2 separate regions of the Homo sapiens genome follow, and region 1 is linked to region 2. Evidence: fine-mapped QTL for protein levels in blood plasma. Region 2 holds a variant in brackets. A gene starts in the other region. All regions are shown on their forward strands.

Region 1 (10,835 bases), not on the chromosome of region 2:
GGAACAACATGTGGGGCTTTGTGGGGAGGTCTCACCTGGACTCTCTGGTGTTCAGGGCTCAGGAAGCTGGAGCCTGCCATGGCCAAGTCCAGCCAGAGCATGCCGAGGAGCAGGAGGCTGCAGACGGTCCCTGGGGAGGGCATGGCCTCAGCTGGGTTGCAGACAGGTGGGCCTGGGGGAGAGAGGGTCTCCAGGCAGCTGCCTCCCCTTCTCATGTGCCTCTGAGCTTGCTCAGGTAGGAGCCCAGCAGATGGCGTGAAGGGCTTTACCATCTGGGGTCCTGACTGCTGTGTAGAGAGGACCCCCGCTTCCACCTCCCAAGGTAGAAGATGATGGATGTGTGTTCTCTTCTCCAAGGCCGTTCAGGGCAGAACACCTGGCAGCAGGACTTGATAGGGGCTGGGGGTCCTCCCCGGTGCCTTTTGTCCCAGGCTCTGAGAGCTCATGGCGAGTCTTTTCATGAGGAGGGAGGAAGCTGAACCAGCAAGGGCCCCAGGGCACTCAGCAGGGAGGGGGTTAGAGGTAGCTCCTAAATGAAGCTCTGTCTTCCAGCCAGACAGTCCGACATCCCCCGTGTTTAGAGGGGACTCCTGAGGCCCAGAGAGGTTAAACGGACGGGCAGCAGTCACGGACAATAAACCTGTCAGCAAACGCACACGGAGAGTAGAGAGAGCTTACCTGCAGTTCCTGGCGGAGGTGGTGCCTGGTGGCTGTCAGGTCCTTATATAGGATGACTGGCGTTTGTTCTAAACCAGCAACCCCATCCCAGAGGTGGCCTAGCTTCCGTGGGGCTGATGTACATTCCTTGGGAACTAAAAATGTTCTTGTCCTCTGGGTAGAAGTCAACAGTGGAGGTCAGATGCCCTGCGGAATTGCTGGGTTGGCGAGGGAAGAAGCATGTGCTCCAGCTGTCCCTGGAACACGGTGGCGGGGTGCCCCAAGTGGGCATGGCCCTGGTGGAGGAGGGAGGGAGGAGAGTGGCTCTGGGGTCTGGGTGCAGCTTTGTTGCTGTGTGACCTTAGCTTACTCGCCCTTTCTCCCTGGGTAAAATGAGGCTGTCATCACTAGGAGAGCTCTGAGACCTCCCCAGTCCAGCGCCCCGTTGTTTCCCATGTGCTGTTGCTGCTCTGGCCTCTGTGAGCCCCGGGAGTCCGCAGGGAGCCAGGCTGGTGATTCTACACCTTCCCGAGGAGGAGTCCCACCTCCCGGTTGAGCAGACTGCTCCTGATCATCCTCTCCAGAGAGTGGGTGTGGGGATAACTTCAGCCAGTGGCTATGCTTCAGTCATTTCTGCCAGGTGTGACATGACTGCCTGGCCTGGCGTTTTTTCACATAGCAGCTTGCCTTGCCTCCCTCCAGCAGCTTTGGTCCCTATTTTAGCGGATGCCTCTTCTGAGAGGGAAGTGCATTGGACCTGGAGGTGGAAGATCTACGCTTAGCACGGGCCTGGCTCCTCTCTCATTGACTGGCCTTACGCCGACCACAAATAATTCCCCTTACCCAGAGTCTTTGAGGGTGAAATGAGGCGATGGGGGGAAAGTGGCTTCTAACCTGTGAAACACCCTGCAGATGACAATGGTTTCATACCAGGCCCATAGGACTTCCCAGCATAGGCCAAGGCCACTGCCTCATTTCCCTCGGCCCCAGGAATTTCTTCCTTTCTGGAGTGCTTCATCCAACTGGGTGCCCAGGCAGGAACCCCTAAGGGCCAATGAGTTGTCTGCAGAGAAGTTCTAGCAGTTCAGGAGAGGAGCTCACCTTAGGCTGGGGCTTGCGGCAGGGATGTTAGCAAAGGCTCCAGGAAAGAGGCCTGTGGTGAACTCGGGGCAGGGCTTTGGAGGGAGGGCTTTGCGGCAAGCAGAGGGGAGGTGAAGGCGTGGGTAGAGTACATCAGGGCAGCATGGAGAAGGCTGGGTGGCTTGGGGGAGGGTGGCGATGGGGTCATAACAAAAACATAAGAAGGTGGTTTGGGGCCAGGTGATGGATGCCTTGGGAACTGCTAGCCCAAGAAGTTTGGGCTTTTTTTGCAGGAGGGCAGCCACTGAGGATTCTTGAGGAGAGAGAGACCATAGAATGAATGAAAGAGTTGGAAAGACTTTAAAGCTCTGGGAGGCTGAATCCTTTATTTCGCTGGAAGAAAAACTGAATGCCAAGAGGGCCTCACTTTCCCCAAAGCTATACAGCCATCAGGGGCAATGCTGGGATTCCCCCATGGATCTCTTGACTCCTAATACAGTGCTCTTTCTGATATGCCATCTGGCTCCATAATGAACATTGTGTTCCAGGAAAATCAGTCTGCGCTGAACAGGATGGAATTGGGGCAGGACGTCCAGTGAGGAGGACATTGAGGCAGTAGAGCAGTTGATTGCCGAATGACCACCTACCCTGACTTAAAAGATCAACCTCAGGGAGGATTGGAGCTTTCTAGAGTCTCTTGGGACAGCAGAAGCACAGGCCGGGTTGGACTGAATCTTTAAGTGGACATGAGGGACAAAGTACCTCCTGTTGGTAAACATCTCACCACCAACCCACTGTGGTGGCTAAAATCCCACCTTTAGTCCCAGCAACATATGAGCATGTCACCAGGAGGTCTTCACAGGCCTGTCTGCCACCTGAGTGTAGACATCTTTTGGCCCTGGAGCCCAGAGAGGCTGAATGTGGAGAGGGTGGAGAGAGGTCTGTAGTCCTCAGAGAAGACTTGCAGCTTTTTCAGAGCCACCAACCCATAAAAAAAAAAATCCCCAAACAGAAAAATCCTAACTGTGGTGACCAGGTACCTCCTGAGACATGAAGCCTCCACTTACCTGGACCCTGGAGGCCTCTCCGGGCACAGCTGCCAATGTTGATCTTAGATAAGACCACCAGCAAGTAAACATCCACTGTGCAAAGCTGTGTTATCTTTGGGGAACTGAAATGTCCCCTGGGAGTTGGAAACTCCCCTAGCCACATACCACAGAGTTGAGGAAGGAAGAGCTGATGGACGGAAGAACCATGGCGGGAGGAGTCATCCGGAAGCTACCTCGCTGCCCTGTCAGTTACGGAACAGAGGAGAGATGCCGGCTGGAGGACACAGCAAATTTGAACCAAGAGGAGCTTGGAGGAAGCCCGAGCGACCTGGAGGGGACTGGCTGACCTTCCTCATTCTTTTCAAGTGTGAATAATAACCAAGCCCAGTTTGGCAACTCCTTGAGGGTGAGGACGAAGCCCCATTCTCCTTTTTGGAACTTGGTGGGGCTCAGGAAGCAGGTTCTCTCCAGTCGGTGGCTTTCCTTTCTGTTGCGGGTCTCTTGAGGGCCTGCCTTCATGAAGGCACATGAGTGACTCATCATTTGTGAATTAATTGCTATATGTGAAGGGCATCTGAGAACAAATTATCTTCATAGACTTTTCATTATAATTTTATTTGTACTGATAATTAGTTGGTTTAGCAAGCTCTTTTTTCATAGATTTGGCTAAACTTCAGTCTGAAAGAGGCAAATTCTGGGGTTCTAGAAAGAGATTTTATTCTTTGATATAGGGCTATTTGGTGGGGTTGCTTTTTGTCCTAGTTGTAGCTTTTATAATTTCGAGATTCACATTTTGCAATAGAAATATACAGGCATACCTTGGAGGCATTACAGCTTTGGTCCCAGACCACAATGAAGCAAGTCACACGAATTTTGTTGGTTTCCCAGTAAATATAAAACGTATGCTGATACCATACTATAGTCTAAGTGTGCAACAGCATATGTCTAAATGAATATACATATATATTTTTTTGAGACAGGTTCTTGCTCTGTCACCCAGGCTGGAGTGCAGTGGCACTATCATGGCTCACTGCAGCCTCCACCTCCCTGGACTAAGATGATCCTCCCACCTCAGGCTCCCAAGTAGCTGGGACTACAGGTCACACCACCACACCCAGTTAATTTTTGTATTTTTTGTAGAGACAGAGTCTTGACATGTTGCCTAGGCTGGTCTTGAACTCCTGGCTTAAGTGATCTGCCTGACTTTGCCTCCCAAAGTGCTGGGATTACAGATGTGTAGTCTTTGAAATCCAGTGTGTGTTCTTACAGTGCATTTCAATTTGGACTAGCCATGTTTCAAATGCTCAGCAGCCACATGCGGCTCATTCTAGATAGGCGGCCATCGCTCTTAAATCCTCCCTGACCTTAGCCATGCTCTCTCATCCCTCCTCTTCGCCAAGCTCTGCCTCTCTCACTGGGGCTTCCCTAGCCTCCGGCCATCTTGGGGCCAAAGCTCTAACACTTTGCCTCTCTCGTGTCTTCTGTTCCCCTCCAGTGGCTTCTGCTTTCTGCCTTAAAATACACCCAGGTTCCTAATCCTGAAAACGTCTGTTGTGCACCGATCCCACCCTCCCCTCGTGTTACCATCTCCATTTCCTTCCCCTTTCCTTGTGTCCTCTTCTTTGCTGTGTCCTGGCCCCTCAAAACTTGACCTTGCCTCTCATCCCCACTGCTGTACTGAAACTGTTGTCTCAGCGTTGCTGATCATCCAGCCTTTTAGTCTATGGACCGCTAAGAGCCATAGGACGACCTCAGGGTGGGACGTGGCTTGGAGGGCCATCTCGTCTCAATTTCCAGATACAGACCTGTGTTGGGTTGTGTTGGATTCATGAGGAAAGCTTCATAAGTTTTATGCACGTTTATAAGACTCCATCCTTGGATTCTGATCCAGTAGCTCTGGCGTGGGGGCTTTAGAATCTGTTTCAAGTATCTCAGGTAATTTTGATTATAAATTACCAAGTATCCCAGGTAAATTTTGATTATAAATGCTTGCTTCCAGCAGAAAATATAAACATATGGAAGATGAAATCTTTCTCTCTGAATAACCCAATTCAGTTTCCACTCGTGAATATCTTATATAACCGTAGTACATTTATCAAAATTAAAACACCAGTGTTAGCACATTACTGTTAATCTCCAGACTATTTGTAAGTCACCAATTTTTCCATTGTCCCATCTGTTCTTCCTTTTCTTTCTCTTGTCATAACCACTTTTAGAGGGTTTTGAATGGTATCATTTTGTCTTCACCGTCGGCTTATTAGCTATACTGTACTGTTCTATTCTTTGAGTGGTTGCTCTAGGATTTACAAATATGACTTCAACATATTGCAGAATACCTTCAACAACTACGATATCCTTTCACAGATAGTGTAAGAACTGCACCACAGAATGCTTTCATTTCCCCACTTCTATTCTTTGTGATATTATTGTCACACATTTTATTTTTACTTAAGGTATGAGCCCCACAATGCATGTTAAATAGCCAAAGTTTTTAGACAGATTAAAGAAATTAAGAAAAAGTCTTATGAACTCAGGTATTTACTATCGTGTTGCTCCTTATTCCTTAGTGCAGATCCATTTTTCTTTTCTTTTTTATTTGAGACAGGGTCTCACTGTGTCACCTGTGGTTGAATGCAATGGCGTGATCTCAACTCACTGCAGCCTCCACCTTCTGGGCTCAACTGATCCTCCCACCTCAGCCTGTAAAGGGATATTTGCAAAGGGATATCGGAGTTGTTGAAGGTATTTGCAATATGTTGAAGTCATATTTGTTTTTTTTTTTTTTTTTTTTTTTTTTTTGAGATGGAGTCTTGCTCTGTTGTCCAGGTTAGAGTGCAGTGGCGTGATCTTGGCTCACTGCAACCCATACCTCCTGGGTTCAAGCAATTCTCCTGCCTCAGCCTCCTGAATAGCTGGGACTACAGGCATGCGCCACCACACCCAGCTAATTTTTGTATTTTTGCTAGAGATGGGGTTTTGCCATGTTGGCCAGGCTGGTCTTGAACTCCTGACCTCAAGTGATCCATCTGCCTTGGCCTCCCAAAGTGCTGGGATCACAGGCATGAGCCACCGCGCTGGGCCTGAAGTCGTATTTGTAAATCCTAATTTTTGTATTTTTTTTTGTAGAGACAAGGTCTCACCATGTCGGTCAGGCTGGCCTCACACTCCTGGGCTTAAGCAATCCTGCTGCCTCAGCATCCCAAAGTGCTGGGATTACAGGTGTGAGCCGCTGTGCCCAGCCTGTTTTTCATCTAGTATTTTCCTTCTGCCTGAAGGAAACTTCTTTGACATTTCTTGTAATGGCAGCTCTGCTGGTGATTAATTCTTTCAGCTTTTATTTGAAAGAGTCTGTATTAAAATATATATATATTTTCACTAGGTATAGAATTTGAGGCTGACAGGTTTTTTTTTTTTTAATTTTTTCAGTACTTTAAAGATGTTAATTTTCTTATGGTTTGCCTACTTTCTGATGAGAAGTTGGCTGCTGCTCCTTTTTTTTTTTTTTTTTTTTTGAGACAGAGTCTTGCTCTGTCGCCCAGGCTGGGGTGCAGTGGCGTGATTTCGGCTCACTGCAACCTCCACCTCCCGGGTTCAAGCAATTCTCCTGCCTCAGCCTCCCGAGTAGCTGGGATTACAGGCACCTACCACCATGTCTGGCTAATTTTAGTAGGGATGGGGTTTCACCATCTTGGTCAGGCTGATCTCGGACTTCTGACCTCGTGATCCACCCGCCTCAGCCTTCCAAAGTGTTGGGATTATAGGCGTGAGCCACGGCGCCTGGCCTGCTGCCACTCTTATATTTGTTCTTCTGGATGGAATGTCTCTTTTTTTTCTGGTTGCTGGGAACATGGGCTATTCCCACCCCTATGTGAGCTCCAGCTGCTTGGTCTATTGGTTTCACCCTTCATATATGAAGGTTAGTACTTGTCCAAAGACTCCAGGAGACTCTTCAGCTCTCAGGAGCTTGCTCTGTGCAGCTTCCTCCTCTCGTCCTCTTCTGCCTTCAGTTCTGCCTTGGTCTTTTTTGTTTGTTTGTTTGTTTTTTGAGACAGAGCCTTGCTCTTTCGCCCAGGGCAGAGTGCAGTGGTGTAATCTTTGCTCACTGCAACCTCCGCCTCCCTGGTTCAAGCAATTCTCCTGCCTCAGCCTCCCGAGTAGTTGGGATTACAGGGGTGCAACACCACGCCCGGCTAATTTTTGTATTTTTAGTAGAGACAGGGTTTCACCATGTTGGCCAGGCTGGTCTCGAACTCTTGATCTCAGGTGATCTGCCCGCCTTGGCCTCCCAAAGTGCTGGGATTACAAGCGTGAGCCACCGCGCCCGGCCTGCCTTGGTCTTCCTGAACTCTGACTTCTGTCTCTTCAACTCCTGGAGACTACTAGACTCTGGAGTCTCTCTTTACCTTTTGGCCCAGAAACTGCTTCTGGGTAGTAGTAACCTGGTGCATTTGTTGTGCTTACCTGTTTCCCTTTTCCCAAACACTGCCTGTTGTCCTATGTCTGAAAGCAGTAGTTGTTTCATGTACTTTTCATGATTTCCTAGTTGTTGTTTTTTTTTTAAATTTATTATTTTATTTTATTTTATTTTTTTATTTTATTATTGTTATACTTTAAGTTTTAGGGTACATGCGCACAATATGTGGGTTAGTTACATATGTATACATGTGACATGCTGGTGTGCTGCACCCATTAACTCGTCATTTAGCATTAGGTATATCTCCTAATGCTATCCCTCCCCCGTCCCCTCCCCCCACAACAGTCCCCAGAGTGTGATGTTCCCCTTCCTGTGTCCATGTGTTCTCATTGTTCAATTCCCATCTATGAGTGAGAATATGCGGTGTTTGGTTTTTTGTTCTTGCGATAGTTTACTGAGAATGATGATTTCCAATTTCATCCATGTCCCTACAAAGGACATGAACTCATCATTTTTTATGGCTGCATAGTATTCCATGGTGTATATGTGCCACATTTTCTTAATCCAGTCTATCATTGTTGGACATTTGGGTTGGTTCCAAGTCTTTGCTATTGTGAATAGTGCCGCAGTAAACATACGTGTGCATGTGTCTTTATAGCAGCATGATTTATAGTCCTTTGGGTATATACCCAGTAATGGGATGGCTGGGTCAAATGGTATTTCTAGTTCTAGATCCCTGAGGAATCGCCACACTGACTTCCACAATGGTTGAACTAGTTTACAGTCCCACCAACAGTGTAAAAGTGTTCCTATTTCTCCACATCCTCTCCAGCACCTGTTGTTTCCTGACTTTTTAATGACTGCCATTCTAACTGGTGTGAGATGGTATCTCATTGTGGTTTTGATTTGCATTTCTCTGATGGCCAGTGATGATGAGCATTTTTTCATGTGTTTTTTGGCTGCATAAATGTCTTCTTTTGAGAAGTGTCTGTTCATGTCCTTCGCCCACTTTTTGATGGGGTTGTTTTTTTCTTGTAAATTTGTTTGAGTTCTTTGTAGATTCTGGATATTAGCCCTTTGTCAGATGAGTAGGTTGTGAAAATTTTCTCCCATTTTGTAGGTTGCCTGTTCACTCTGATGGTAGTTTCTTTTGCTGTGCAGAAGCTCTTTAGTTTAATTAGATCCCATTTGTCAATTCTGGCTTTTGTTGCCATTGCTTTTGGTGTTTTAGACATGAAGTCCTTGCCCATGCCTATGTCCTGAATGGTAATGCCTAGGTTTTCTTCTAGGGTTTTTATGGTTTTAGGTCTAACGTTTAAGTCTTTAATCCATCTTGAATTAATTTCCTAGTTGTCTATAGTGTGAGGGAAATTCTTATTTATTATTAAAGAGACAGGCTCTTGCTGTGTTGCCCAGGCTGATCTCAAACTCCTGGGCTCAAGAGATCCTCCTCCCTCAACCTTCCAAAGTGCTGGCCACTGCGCCCAGCCAGGGAAATTTTTTTTTTTTTAGACAGAGTCTCACTCTCTTGCCCAGGCTGGAGTGCAGTGGTGCAATCTCGGCTCACTGCAACCTCCACCTCCTGGGCTCAAGCGATTCTTGTGCCTCAGCCTCCTGAGTAGCTGGCACTACAGAGGCACACACCACTGCACCTAATTTTTGTATTTTTAGTAGAGATGGGGTTTTGCCATGTTGGCAGGCTGGTCTTGAATTTCTGGGCTCAAACATTCCGCCCGTCTTGGCCTTTCGAAGTGTGGGATTACAGTTGTGAGCCACCATGTTGGCTGGGAAATTCTTACAATCGTTAATCCTTTATATGCAGAAGTGGAAGGTCTCCCCTTAGTGTTTCTGGGCTCACTTGTAAATGGAAGCCTGTGAATCTTCTAGTTTTGGGAGTTGTTTTCACAGTGGCTTGCTGAGTTTTGCACTCAGAATGGATGAGTATTTGATGGCAATTTTTGGGGTCTCTGGCTTATAGCACCATAAAAACTCCCTTTTCTTCACCCTGCTGATCTCTCAGAGGTATTGTGTCTATGAAGGCTTTGGCCTGCTCCATGTTCTAGGGTCTGTGGGTTTCTTTTGCTGTCCCAGTTGCTTTGTTTTTGCAAAAGGATTAAAAACATATGGCTGCTAGCGCCATCTGGCCCTAACCAGAGCTCTATGCCTTTTAAATTTCCCTTACTTTTATCTCATTTGGGCTTGACAACTGCCCGGCAAGTTTTACAGATAGTATTTCTATTTGACTAGGCTATTTTGTGGTAATAAATTTTGGGGTCTCCTCTTACCCAGGAATGGTTAATGTGTTGCCACTCTAAGTATAAACAACTATTATGGTGCCAACTTCATAATTATCTTAACCAATCCTTGGTGGTGGGAGTTAAAATAGAGCACACAGTCAGGGACCCATTAACCTACCACCAACCCAGAGTGACACGGGACTAGTTCCTTCTCGGTATTTTCTTGGCGACAGCAGCTGGCACCATAGGAAGCCCAGGCCCAGGCTTGAGGAGCACAGAGCGTATCAGGGAGGCAGACGTGGATATGGTTCAAGGATTCACTGTAGAACTCGACACTCAGTAGTGCACGTGAAGGTGCCTTCCTGGGCTTTGCTTTTCTGAGTAAGGGAAGGAAGGAAGCAGCTGTTTTCATGTTGGTCTCAGAAGGCTTGGGCTTTGTGGACTGACTGGAGGCTGACTGGGCCAGGCCATGGCCTCTCTGTCCTCACCTTTAACCAAAGCAGTTTCACTTTCTTCTATGTTACATAGTATGATCAAAGATTTTTTTTTTTTTTTAAAGGGGATTTTGCTGCTGAAAAAGGAGGGAAGGACAAGAAGTAGGCAGACTAGGGGGCCTGAGGCAAGTGGGCTGACCTTTTATCTGAATCTATTCATACAAAGGTTTGGTGTGAGAAACATCCTTGTATTACAGCTGAGGAGAGCCCCCCAGCTCCCACCCTGATTCTACAGTGGGGAGTAACTGTTGAGATGGGCCAGGCCCTGACGCTGGCTTTACGTTTGCACAGTCCTGGGCAGGGCTTCTACCTTCTGAGCGCTTCCTCATCAGTGAACTGGGTACACCCACACGGGGTTCTCGTGTTGCTTAAATTAGCGAATGTGTGAAAGATCCAGTGTAGGGTCTGGCTCACCGCAGGCTCACTGATGGCTATGGCGATTGTCAGGGTCACAGGGCCTCCGCTGAAAGGTGATACCTGGTTCAGGGTCAGTTAGGTCTCCCATCATGGGGCCCTCCTTTTCCTGACAGGGTCAATAAACTAAATGAATCGTGCCCACTTTCTGGGCCAGCATCTTAACTATTGGTGTTTGGTTAATACCACGTTGCACCTGCGTGGCATTTTGTAGGTCACCAGATGCACTAGCGTGTTTGAATCTTGCAGCCATCCTGTAGGGCAGACTGTATTAGTCCCATTCTGCAGAACAGGATGTGTACCGAGAGGGTAAGTAGCAGACCCAGGGCTACAGTCCTTGTCACCAAAGGCTGAGTCCAGTGCTCTGTATGGTGCTTTCAGTATAAACTGAATCAGAGATGCTCATGCAGTGACAAGCCACCTTTGTGCGTGGGGTTAAGCCAGGCCATCACAGCCGTGGCCTTTGTGAATAGTTTGTTCTAGTGCGTGG
Region 2 (10,824 bases):
ATGCAGGTGTAGCAGGATGACACAAAGTGGCTGAACTTGTTTCATAAGGAATATCTGAATTTTATTTTTAAAGGAAGTTTTTGGTCTTGCAAGTGGGACAACAGTGTGTTCTGCCAGTTTGTGTCATCCTGCCACACCTGCACGTCAGGCATGGAGACGTGTCCACAAGGAGCCCGTGTCTGGTGCTGAGTCTCCTCCAGGACGCTTTTCCCGGCATCCCAGTCCCCAGTCAGCCCCTCACAAGCTACTGTGGGATTCCCTGTCTCCCCGAAATTAGGGTGGTTTCTTGCCTTGCGACTGGAGAGGAAGCACTGATCCCCAAGGCCACGTGAACACGGGATGAAACGTGCAATTCTCCTGTGCCCAAGGCACAGACAAGAAACGGGAGGCCTGAGGGGCCAGCGCTGGGGCTGACTCCGTCCTGTGTGAGGCTAAGAGGCCCTGAGAAACGCGGGGGGAAAGCGGGAAACAACCTTCGCAGGGGCATAGTGTGTGTGTGTGTGTGTGTGTGTGTGTGTGTGTGTGCGTGTGTGTGTTGGGGGGTATGGAGGATATGAAGGAGAAATACTCAAAAAACAAGTCGCATTCTGGAGCTGGGGGAAGAGGTGAGCTGGGGGTCAGAAGGAGAGTATGGGACAGAGAAGGAGGGGACAGAAAGCCTGGGGCCGTGCGCCCCGCAGAGAGCGCCCGAGAGCCGGCGCCGAGTTCCGCTAGGAGCCCTCCACGCTGGGGGATCCTGGCGCAGAGACAGCGCTGGGCTACTGGCGAGGCTCGCTTAAAAAGCGTCCGTACCCCAGGGTCCCCGTTTGTGGGTAGAAATTCAGTCTGGGACAAGAACAAGAACAAAAACAGAAATGGAGAAAAAAAAGTCTCGGTCTGGTTTTTTAAGGGCAAGCGGACCTCGTGACCAAGCCTCTCTGAGAGTGGAAGCGCAGGAAGGGTCCGGGCTGGGGCGTCAAGGCCAGGCCTGGCGGCAAGGGGTGGGTGCGGCTCGGGGGCCGCGCGCTCAGGCCGCGGGGGTCGCGCGGGAAGCACAGGGCTTCGGGTTCCGAGCGCGGCTCCCGGGAGGGGGCGCTGCCGCCCGCGGCTGGGTCCGGCCCCGCAGCCTCGCGACCAACCCCGCCCCGCCCCGCGCGCCCGCCTGCCCAGACTGCGGCTCCCGCCCGCGCCGCCCGCGCCCACCAGGGACCGGAGAGCGCCCGCACCCATCCGGCCCGGCCCGGCCGCCCAGCGCCTCAGGCCAGGACCCTACTCACCCTGCTCACCCGGAGCAGCCGCCGCCGGCCGGAAGTGCCGGCCACTCGGTTCTCCTCCAGTCCGCGCCTCGTCGCCTTCCCCCAGCTACTTCCGGGACGCTCTAGACAGGCTGGAGGACTCAGCACTCGGTGGTGTCTGGGAGCCAGACGCAGGCTTTCAAAGAGCTGGGTGGCCGCGGAGGGCGTGGGAGGAGAGGAGGCCTGGAGGAGAGGAGTGGGGGGGTCCCAGGGTGGGGGGAGGCGTGGGAGGGGAGAAGGCGCGGGCAGGGAGGGGAGAGGGGAAACGGGGCGAAGGCGGGGCGCGCGGCCTGGGCCCCGGGCTCCGCCCTGCTCTCTCCATCTGTAGAATGGGCGCAGGGCGTCACATTCCTTTCATGACAGTGAACCCTGCGCTGAAGGCGTTGGGGCTCCTGCAGTTCTGGGGCAGCCACAGGCGCCCAGGGTTTCGTGCCGATCAGCCCAGGACGGTCTTCCCGGTGCAGTTTCTGATGCGGGGAGGGCAGTGCTGCCTTCCGGTCACCAGGACCAGTGCTCAGCCCGCCTGCTTGACCCCCTTACTTAGCTGGGGTCCAATCCATACCCAATTTAGATGATTCAGACGATGGGATTTGAAACTTTTGAACTGGGTGCGACTTAAGTGAGTATGGACCTGAGTTGGTGCTGTAATGAGTTGAGGCTGTGGAGGACCTTGAGATGGGTGCGTGGATTTTGCCCATGGGACCTATGCAAATTTTGGAAACTGGAGGGTGGACTGTGGTGGGCAGAATAATGGCCCTCCAAGGATGTCCACATCCTAACTTCCAGGTCTTGTGAATACATTACTTACATGGCAAAAGGGACTGCAAATGCAATGAAGTTAAGATTCTTTAGGTGGAGAGATTCTTATGTTTATCAGGGTGAGCCCAATGTGCAGTCGTCCCTGGGTATCCATAGAGGATTGGTTCCAGCACTTCTCAAGGATGCTAAAATCCTTGATGCTCAAATCCCTTACATAAAATGGCTTCGTATTTGCATATAACCTACACACATCTTCCCGTATACGTTAAGTCACTTCTAGATTACTTATAATACCTAATACAATGTAAGCGCTATGTAGATAGTTGTTATACAGTATTGTTTAGGGAATAGTGACAAGAGAAAAATTTGTACATGTTCAGTACAGACACAGGTTTTTTTCCGAATTGTTTGTATCCTCGGTTGGTTCCATCTGGATGCAGAGCCCACGGGTTCAGATAGGAGGGCAGGTGCCATATCAGGGGTTCTTGTGGGAGTTAGGAAGCCAAGTGAGAGGACAATGGGATGAAAGAGGAGAGAAAAGGAAATGTGACAACAGACACAGGGGTTGGAGTGATGTGCTTTGAAGATGGAGGAAGGGGCCACAAGCCAAGGACTATGAGCGGCTTCTAGTGGCTGGGAGAGACAAGGAAACAGGGCCTCTCCTGGAGCCAGCAGAAGGAATGCAGCCTGCTGACCCCTTGATCTTAGCCCATGACACTCATTGTGCCATTAGACTTCTGAACCCAGAGCTGTAAGATATAAATTTGTATTGTTTTGGATCACCACGTTTATGGTAATTTGTTAGGACAGCAATAATAAACAAATACAGATTTGGGTAGCTCACTCCTCCTTTTTCCTTTTTTGAGGTAGGGTCTCACTCTGTTGCCCAGGCTGGAGTGCAGTGGTACATTCTCCTCACCGCAGCTTCAACCTCCTGGGCTCAAGGGATCCTCCTGCCTCAACCCCCAGAGTAGCTGGGACTACAAGCATGCACTGTCTCACCTATCTTTTTAATTTTTTGTGGAAACGAGGTCTAGCTGTGTTGCCTAGGCTGGTCTCGAGCTCGTGGACTCAAGCGATCCCAAAATGCTGGGATTCCAGGCACGAGCCCATGTGCCAGCTCACTCATCCTTAGGTCCGTTGTTACCTGGGCTCCCAGCACCCTCCCACCCTCTGGTTCTTCTCTTCCTCACCCTCCCTTGCTGGTTCCTTACTGACCAGGCCATTCTTTGGCTCTTTTTGTTCAACCAGTCCCCACTCCCTGGGTGATCTCCTCCAGTGTCATGCCGTTAAATACCATCCAACACTGGCAACGACCAAATTCATGTCTCCTGCCAGGGCCCCTCCCCAGAAATCCAGACTCCTATGTGCTAGCCAATGTCTCTGCTTAGCTTTGATCCTCCAGCCCAGCCTTGCTCCATCTGCATTGCCCCCACCTTCATGAACGGCAGCTCACCTTGCTATTCACTCAGGCTCAGCCTCAACAGTCTCCATCCCTCATATCCAGATCCTCTACCCTCAAAATCCAGCCAGTGTTTGGCCTCTTCTCACTCCCTCCAACTGCCCTCCCCAATCCACACCTCTGTGGTCTTGCCTCCTCCCCAGTCTCTGTTTCTGCCCTTACCCCCATACAGCTATCAACTGCTGCATCAAAAACCGCCCAAAACTTAGCAGCTTGAAACCAACTGTTTTTATTGCAGATGATTCTGTGGGGCAGGAATTTGGCCATGCTAGAGTCAGATGTGTTTCACAGAGGAGGCTGAGTCACGGAGCATACCAGGCACATGGCAGGACTGGAACCCAAGGTCCCTGGACTGGGGCTCCCATGGCAGGGTCTCCTGGGACAGCAAAGTCCTCCCTCCCCCGGAAGGCTGGCTCCATCCCTGGTGCGACTCTGCTGCTGAAGCAGCATCATTGGGGTAAATACCTGGGGTTCATTGTCTCACACCAAGAAGATTAAGGACATGGACTCATGTAGATGGGTTAAGGAGCAGAAAGTTTAATAGACAGAAGAAAGGAGAGAAGAGAGCAGCCCTCTCTTTCGAAAGAGGCGTCCAAAAGAGAAAAGCCAGCCTGCAGCAGACCCCAGCAGATTTTATAGGCAGGCTTGAGGAGGCAGTGTCTGATTTACAAAGGGCCCACAGATTGGTATGACCAAGGGTGATGTTTACATATGGCGTGGGGAAGGCTGGTCGCCCCACCCTAATCTTATTATGCAAATGGGCTTCTACTTGGCCAGCACCATCTTGTCTGCTCCTTGCTGTACACATGGCTGGCAAAGAGAAGGGAAGATGGAGCTGCCATTTTGATCATGCCTAGTCTCAGGTAGCTTTTTCCCATTGGCACAACTGCTGGCATTCACGCGTGCAAGCTTCCAGCTTGCTTGTCTTATGTTTGCGGCTCGATTTTACAGGCTGCTCTTTGTTAGAAAAGAAAATGATTTGGAGCCTGCTTTTCATTAAAAGGAAAACCTTACTGAGGACTTCCTTACCCTCACTATCTGCCTAAATAATTTATTTTTAACTCCTATTTTTAACTGCCACCTCAGGGACATGGGATCACGTGGTCTCCCAGGACTTGGACAGTGCTGGTGGGCAGTGGGGATTGGCATGAAACTGGGGCCTCATCCCAAGATGCATGGGGCTCCTCCAGGTGCTCCTACCATTACTCACGGAACCTTGGGCCTCTTCTCGAGGACCAAGTCCATTCTGACACTGGGAGGGGTCAGAAAGAGAGGAAGAAAATACACTAGCGTGTAATCACCCAGTGGGTTCATTTTGACCCCTGGCAAGATAGAGCTGATTTAGCAAGACAGGGGAATTGCCATAGAGAAAGAGTTTAATTCATGCAGAGCCAGCTGAACGGGAGACCAGAGTTTTATCATCACTCAAATCAGCCTCTCAGAAAATTCGGACGCTAGGGTTTTTCAAGGAGAGTCTGGTGGGCCAGGGAATGGGTGCTGCTGGTTGGCTGGGGATGTGGAAAATGGTCCTCCTGTGCACTGAGTTTGCGTCCAGGTGGGGCCACAGGACCGGCTGCGGGGTTGGTGGGCCTCGCTAGAGCCATCCATCAGTCATTAGACGTGCAAAAACCTGAAACGACATCTCACAAGGCCAATCTTAGGATCACAATAGTGATGTTACTTGCAGGAGTAATTGGGGGAGTTGCAAATCTTGTGGTCCCTGGAATAACGGCTGGGAGTCGTTTCAGTCTAACCTCAGCAGAGCTCAGATCCCCTCATCTTCCTAATGAATAACGGCTGGGAATCGTTTCAGTCTAACCTCAGCAGAGCGCAGATCACCCATCTTCCTAATGAATAACGGCTGGGAATCGTTTCAGTCTAACCTCAGCAGAGCTCAGATCCCCTCATCTTCCTAATGAATAACGGCTGGGAATCGTTTCAGTCTAACCTCAGCAGAGCTCAGATCCCCCATCTTCCTAATGAATAACGGCTGGGAATCGTTTCAGTCTAACCTCTGCAGAGCTCAGATCCCCCATCTTCCTAATGAATAACGGCTGGGAATCGTTTCAGTCTAACCTCAGCAGAGCTCAGATCCCCCATCTTCCTAATGAATAACGGCTGGGAATCGTTTCAGTCTAACCTCAGCAGAGCTCAGACTCCCCTCATCTTCCTAATGAATAACGGCTGGGAATCGTTTCAGTCTAACCTCAGCAGAGCTCAGATCCCCCATCTTCCTAATGAATAACGGCTGGGAATCATTTCAGTCTAACCTCAGCAGAGCGCAGATCCCCTCATCTTCCTCATGCAGTGGTGGCCTTTCGTTAGCTTTACAAAGATGGCTGAGTTTTGGAAAAGGGCTGTTATGCCCAGAAATGACTAAGGGCAGTTTGGAGATTAACTGGCTGTGGGTTAGATCAGATCTCCTTCACCATCACCATTTTCTCACTGTTAAAACTTTTACAAAGGCAGTTTCCAGTGTCTCCTGGGGGCTGGCTCTGAGGACTCCCTTCCCCCAGCCATGCCCCAAGTTCGCAGAGCAGAGCCCCCAGACTATGCCTGGGCCACTGCACCAGCCTGCTTCCCTACTGAGCGGAGCCTCCAGACCATGCCTGGGCCACTACAGCAGCCTGCTTCTGCACTGGCTTCCCCATCTCCACCCACAGTCAGAGTGGCATTTGACAGGGCCAGTCACTCCCCCTGCCCAAATAAGCCTGTGCACTCTGAATACAGCTCAGGTCCTCGCTGGGCCACAAGGCCACGCCGGAGCTAACCCCTCACTGTCCTCTCCGAAGCCCATGGGTCATCCCCCGTGCCTGCTATTCCCTCTGCCTGGAGGTGGGCTTGTATCCGGCAGTGTCCTTTGCTCAGGTGCCGGAGGCCTCAGGTTGGGGCAGTCCCAGCCAGCCCTCCTTCTGGAGGTCTCTGGATGACAGGCCTCTCATAGCAGGGGTGGCTGGGGGTGCTGGTGAGGCTGTGCCCAGCTGGAAGGGAAGGGTGTGCCTTGGGTCTCCTCCCCAGTCTGAGTTCACTCCAGGAAGGGGGAGTGGCAGGAGCAGAGGGTGCAGAGTGGTGGGGGTGGTTCTGAGGGTCATTGGAGGCCAAGGGGCCTGGCTGGTGGGGCAGGGGCTGGGGCAGTGCCCATCTCCACCTTAGTGCCCAGGCAGGAGGGGAGCTGGTTTGGGGCAGGGCCCTGATGACGCCTTTGTGAGAGCCAGGAAAAGGCACCTCCTCTGGGAACACAGGGCCCTGGGGGAGTTAGAGATGGGGAGGGCCTGTGGGCCCCAGCTGGGTGGGCTTGGGGAAGAACGCCTCTGAGGGGCTCCAAGCTGCACAGCCCTCAGGACTTGGTGGCCCCAACACACCCACATTTACACACATGCTTTTGCTTACACAACACACAACCGGTGCACACACCCACACTCACTTGCATTTACACACATGCCACACATTTGCACATTTGATCCACATGCACAGACAAGCATCCTCTCTCACACTCTCACACACACTATGTGGCACACTCCCATGCCCACATAGTTGGCACATACAAACCCTCACAGTCACATATCACACACACACAGCTTGCAAGTCATGGCCTTAATTTCCAGAACCCAAATGGGGGCTTGGCACTGAGTGCCCCCAGCCAACCCATGTGCATCAGTGGGTTTTCCTCCTGATCTGCAAGGGCGTTTTTCCAAAGCAAAGATGCTAAAAACTGACACCAGCGTGGCTTTGCAAGTGACATGCTATCTTTATTTTTTTAATTAATGCTGCATGAAATAAAAAAAATTACACACAGGGATGTGTGTTCCAGCATGGGACCGTGTGGGGCCCCAGAAGGTGGTGGTGGGACTCCCTGCAAGGTGAGTCAGCTCCCAGAAGCCCCAGGGCCTGGTCCGGCTGTCCTGGCCCCGGCCTCATGCCCTGCACTAGGTGGAAGACAGGATCTCCAGGGAACCCGGCTGCTTTGGGCCCATGGCAGTGGGGTGGGTGGGCAGAAGGCCAAGAGCAAACAGGAAAATCTGGAGTCCCTGGAGGCAACTGGCAGAGAAGAGGAAGGAGGCCAAGGGTGAGTCACACTGAAGCCACACTAACTGTTGTTATTGTACATGATTCTGTGGGTCAGGAATTTGAGCATGCTAGAGTCAGATGTTTCACAGTGGAGGACGCTTAGTCATGGGGCATACCAGGCACATGGTGGGACTAGAACCCAGGGCCGCTGGATGGGGGTTCCCAAGGCAGGGTCTCCTGGGACAGGAAGGCTGGTTCCATCCCTGGTGTGACTGCTTACCACCTCAGGGACGGGATCACTTGGTCTCCCAGGACTTGGGTGCTGCTGGTGGGGAGTGGAGATTGGCATGGAACTGGGGTCGGAACTGGGGCCTGATCCCCAAGATGCATGGGGCTCCCCCAGGTGCTCCTACCATTACTCAGGGAACCTTGGATCTCTTCTCAAAGACCAAGTCCATTCTGGCACTGGGGAGGGATCAGAAAGAGAGGAAGAGAAGGAAGAAAATACACTAGTGTGTGATCACCCAGGGGGTTCATTTTGACCCCTGGCAAGATACAGCCGATTTATCAAGACAGGGGAATCACAATAGAGAAAGAGTTTAATTCACACAGAGCCAGCTGACCGGGAGACTGGAGTTTTATTATCACTCACATCAGCCTCTCAGCCCCTGTCCACCGGATGAGGATCTGCAGGAAGCCATGCCCCTTGTGGCAGAACTTCCCAGAAAGGAGAACTGCCAGAAGATCCAGGCTCAGTTTAGGCTCAGGGGCTGCATTCAGTGTATGGCCAAAGTGTGAATGACAGGGGACAGGGATTCGCCTGTGACCAGGGTCAAAAATCAGAGGGTGACCACAGTCAGGGTTCATTCTGTGACCAGGATCAGGGCTCAGCCAGTGGCCAGGGCCAGGGCTCAGGGTGGGGCCGTAACCAGGGCTCGTTAGGTAACCAGGATTAGAGTTCAGACTGACCACAGTGAGGGCTCAGTTTTGGGGTGAGGTCAGAACCCAACCTGTGGTCAGGGGTGGGGCTCTAGGAATGTCACAGCCATGGTCTTCCGTATAGGAGCCATGACCACGGGGCCATCCTCAGACCAGCCACACCCTCAGTGCGGCGGATGCTGGGGCTGCGGATTCTGTGGTGGGGATCCTGTGTGTTGCCCCCTCCTTGGCCTGCACCCACTAGAGGCCAGCAGCACCCCTGAGCTGGAATAAGCAGAGATGCCTCCAGACATCACCAAACATTCCCTGGCGGTGCAGAGTCACCCACGTGAGAACCACTGCCTTACAGCAATCACTGTGTATCAAATCAGATCAACAAACACTTACACACCTATAAATATTTGAGGACGGAAAGTTCCAGGCTGGCACCTTGAACACAGAGACAGATAAGAAAACGTCTTGTGCGGGAGTGGCCAGAGTCCGGGCGAGCTGGGGCGGGGGGCGGAGGGAGGATGGGACAGGGGCTGTCAGCCACACACGGAAGCAGTTCATGACTGTATGAGGCCCCTTGTCCTGAGCTTACAGGACATGGGCTGGAGGGCGTGTCCAGAGGGAAAGTTCTGGGTGGGCAGAGTGGGCAAGCAAGGAGTCTGGGGGAGGCTGCAGTCACCCTGCATGGCCTCCAGTAAGTTCCTGTCCCTCTTGGGCTCAGGCTCCTCACTTGCCAGAGAAGAGACAATTTCCATGGAAAAGAGCCCAACCCAGTGGGTTCCAGGGAGGCAGGCAGGAGAGACCTCAGAAGGACAGGGGCTGACCTGGAGCCCCGGGGGAAGCCCAAAGGCAGATTCCTGGTGCCACTGAGTCCCAGGGAGGTCGGGTCTTGCATCGTCCCTGCCCCCATCAGTAGTGTCACCTTGATCCCAGACTCAAGGTGAGACAGTGGGAAGCTGATGTCCCCTGAACACCCCAGAAACATCTACCAGCCTTCCTGGACGGTGCAGGCCTTCCTGGACGGTGCAGACCTGCTGGGAGAGGGTCCGATTCCCCGAGACTTTTCCTGACTGCAACATCCTCACCACCCCCTAAAATGTGCCAGAGCCTTTTCAGGGGCAAAATCGAGGAGAGGAGGTAACAATGAAGGCCGGACAACCATCAGCGGGGACGAGAGAGCGTCAGGGGAGAAGGGGCCGGTCTCCCTCCAGACACACACTCGGCAGCAGGCAGGGCCACGGACCACAGTGGACCTACCAGCTTCCGGCAGGAACAACAGCATACCCAAGAGGGTTGCCAGGCAGAGTTATCTAACTCAGGGTCCATGTACAAAGGCAGGGGTCAGGTTGAAGGAGACAGCAGCGGCCACAAGTCCCCCTCAAAGCCAGCCAGCAGCAGGAAGCCACCAGCCCCTCGGGCTTGCAGGGATGAGGGGGAGAGCACAGTGACCAGAGGCTGGCCAGAACCCGGGGGACAGGAGAAGCCTGGCTGACGGGACCTGGGCCTTCTCTAGAGGGCCATAGCCACTGCCACCACCACCCAGCCACTGGCAGGAGAGCCTGGGCCTGCTCTAGAGGGCCATAGCCACTGCCACCACCACCCAGCCACTGGCAGCAGAGCTTGGGCCTGCTCTAGAGGGTCCTAGCCACTGC[T/C]ACCACCACCCAGCTGGCTGGCAGGAGAGCCTGGGCCTGCTCTAGAGGACCATAGCTACTGCCACCAACACTCAGCCGGCTGGCAGGAGAGCCTAGGCCTGTACTAGAGGACCATAGCTACTGCCACCAACACTTAGCCAGCTGGCATGAGAGCCTGGGCCTGCTCTAGAGGGCCATAGCCGCTGCCACCACCCACCGCCCAGCTGACTGGCATGAGAGCTTGGGCCTGCTCTAGAGGGCCATAGCCACTGCCACCACCGCCCAGCGGGCTGGGCCTGCTCTAGAGGGCCATAGCCACTGCCACCACCTCCCAGCTGACTGGCAGGAGAGCTGGCCTGAACTTGCCTCTTCCACTCTCTCATCTCCTGCCTGTGGGAGCTGGACCAGCCTCCCAGGACATGGAGCAGGACGGAGAGGGGATCTGGGGCAAACAGAGGCCATACAGCCCTGGGCCTAGCCGCTGCCTCCTGCTACTGCAGAGGCTGCTAAAAGCTGCACTTCCCCGACTCGTTTGCAGCTAAAGTTCCAAGCTGAGGGGGTCACTCAAGGTCCTGAGGGTAAAGCACCTAGCCCAGGGCTCAGCCCACACTGAATGCCCCATAAATGAAGGCCCGTCCAACAGGGTCTCCTCCCCAGGGAGGCTGTCCCCTGTGTCAACAAGAGCCAAACTCTGTAAAATATTTGAAGACATTTATTCTGAGCCAAATATGAGGGACCATGGCCTGTGACACAGCCCCCA

Alleles and levels. Positions count from the first base shown, and alleles are read on the strand shown. Strength reflects both the effect of a copy and how common the allele is.
In carriers of allele T in region 2, the plasma level of the protein whose gene starts at base 2,910 in region 1 tends to be lower than with C alone (weak association).

Evidence for each region. A credible set is the group of variants that fine-mapping cannot tell apart. PIP is the chance, under the fine-mapping model, that this variant and not a neighbour inherited with it causes the effect. Protein levels are from antibody-based Olink assays in UK Biobank. Linkage for the fine-mapping came from a reference panel and not from the study's own genotypes, which makes the PIPs less certain.
Region 1: it holds the start of GHRL, and the variant in region 2 is the best candidate, but not a certain one, in a credible set for the plasma level of the GHRL protein (UK Biobank, PIP 0.60).

Annotation. Positions count from the first base shown.
Region 1 is chr3:10,290,038-10,300,872 of GRCh38, forward strand. It overlaps GHRL (ghrelin and obestatin prepropeptide), which reads right to left and starts at 2,910. Exons shown (of 6, transcript NM_016362.5): 1 at 2,805-2,910; 2 at 679-1,414; 3 at 36-172. The coding sequence starts at 143. It overlaps GHRLOS (ghrelin opposite strand/antisense RNA), which reads left to right. Exons shown (of 6, transcript NR_073568.1): 6 at 2,031-3,412. RefSeq lists enhancers at 554-1,156, 2,668-2,737, 2,748-2,997, 2,808-3,102.
Region 2 is chr8:142,668,676-142,679,499 of GRCh38, forward strand. JRK (Jrk helix-turn-helix protein) reads right to left here and starts at 1,292. Exons shown (of 2, transcript NM_003724.4): 1 at 1,257-1,292. It also overlaps a transcript of PSCA not described here. RefSeq lists silencers at 949-1,238, 1,489-1,638 and an enhancer at 1,339-1,488. The variant T/C (reference allele first, on the strand shown) is at 10,086.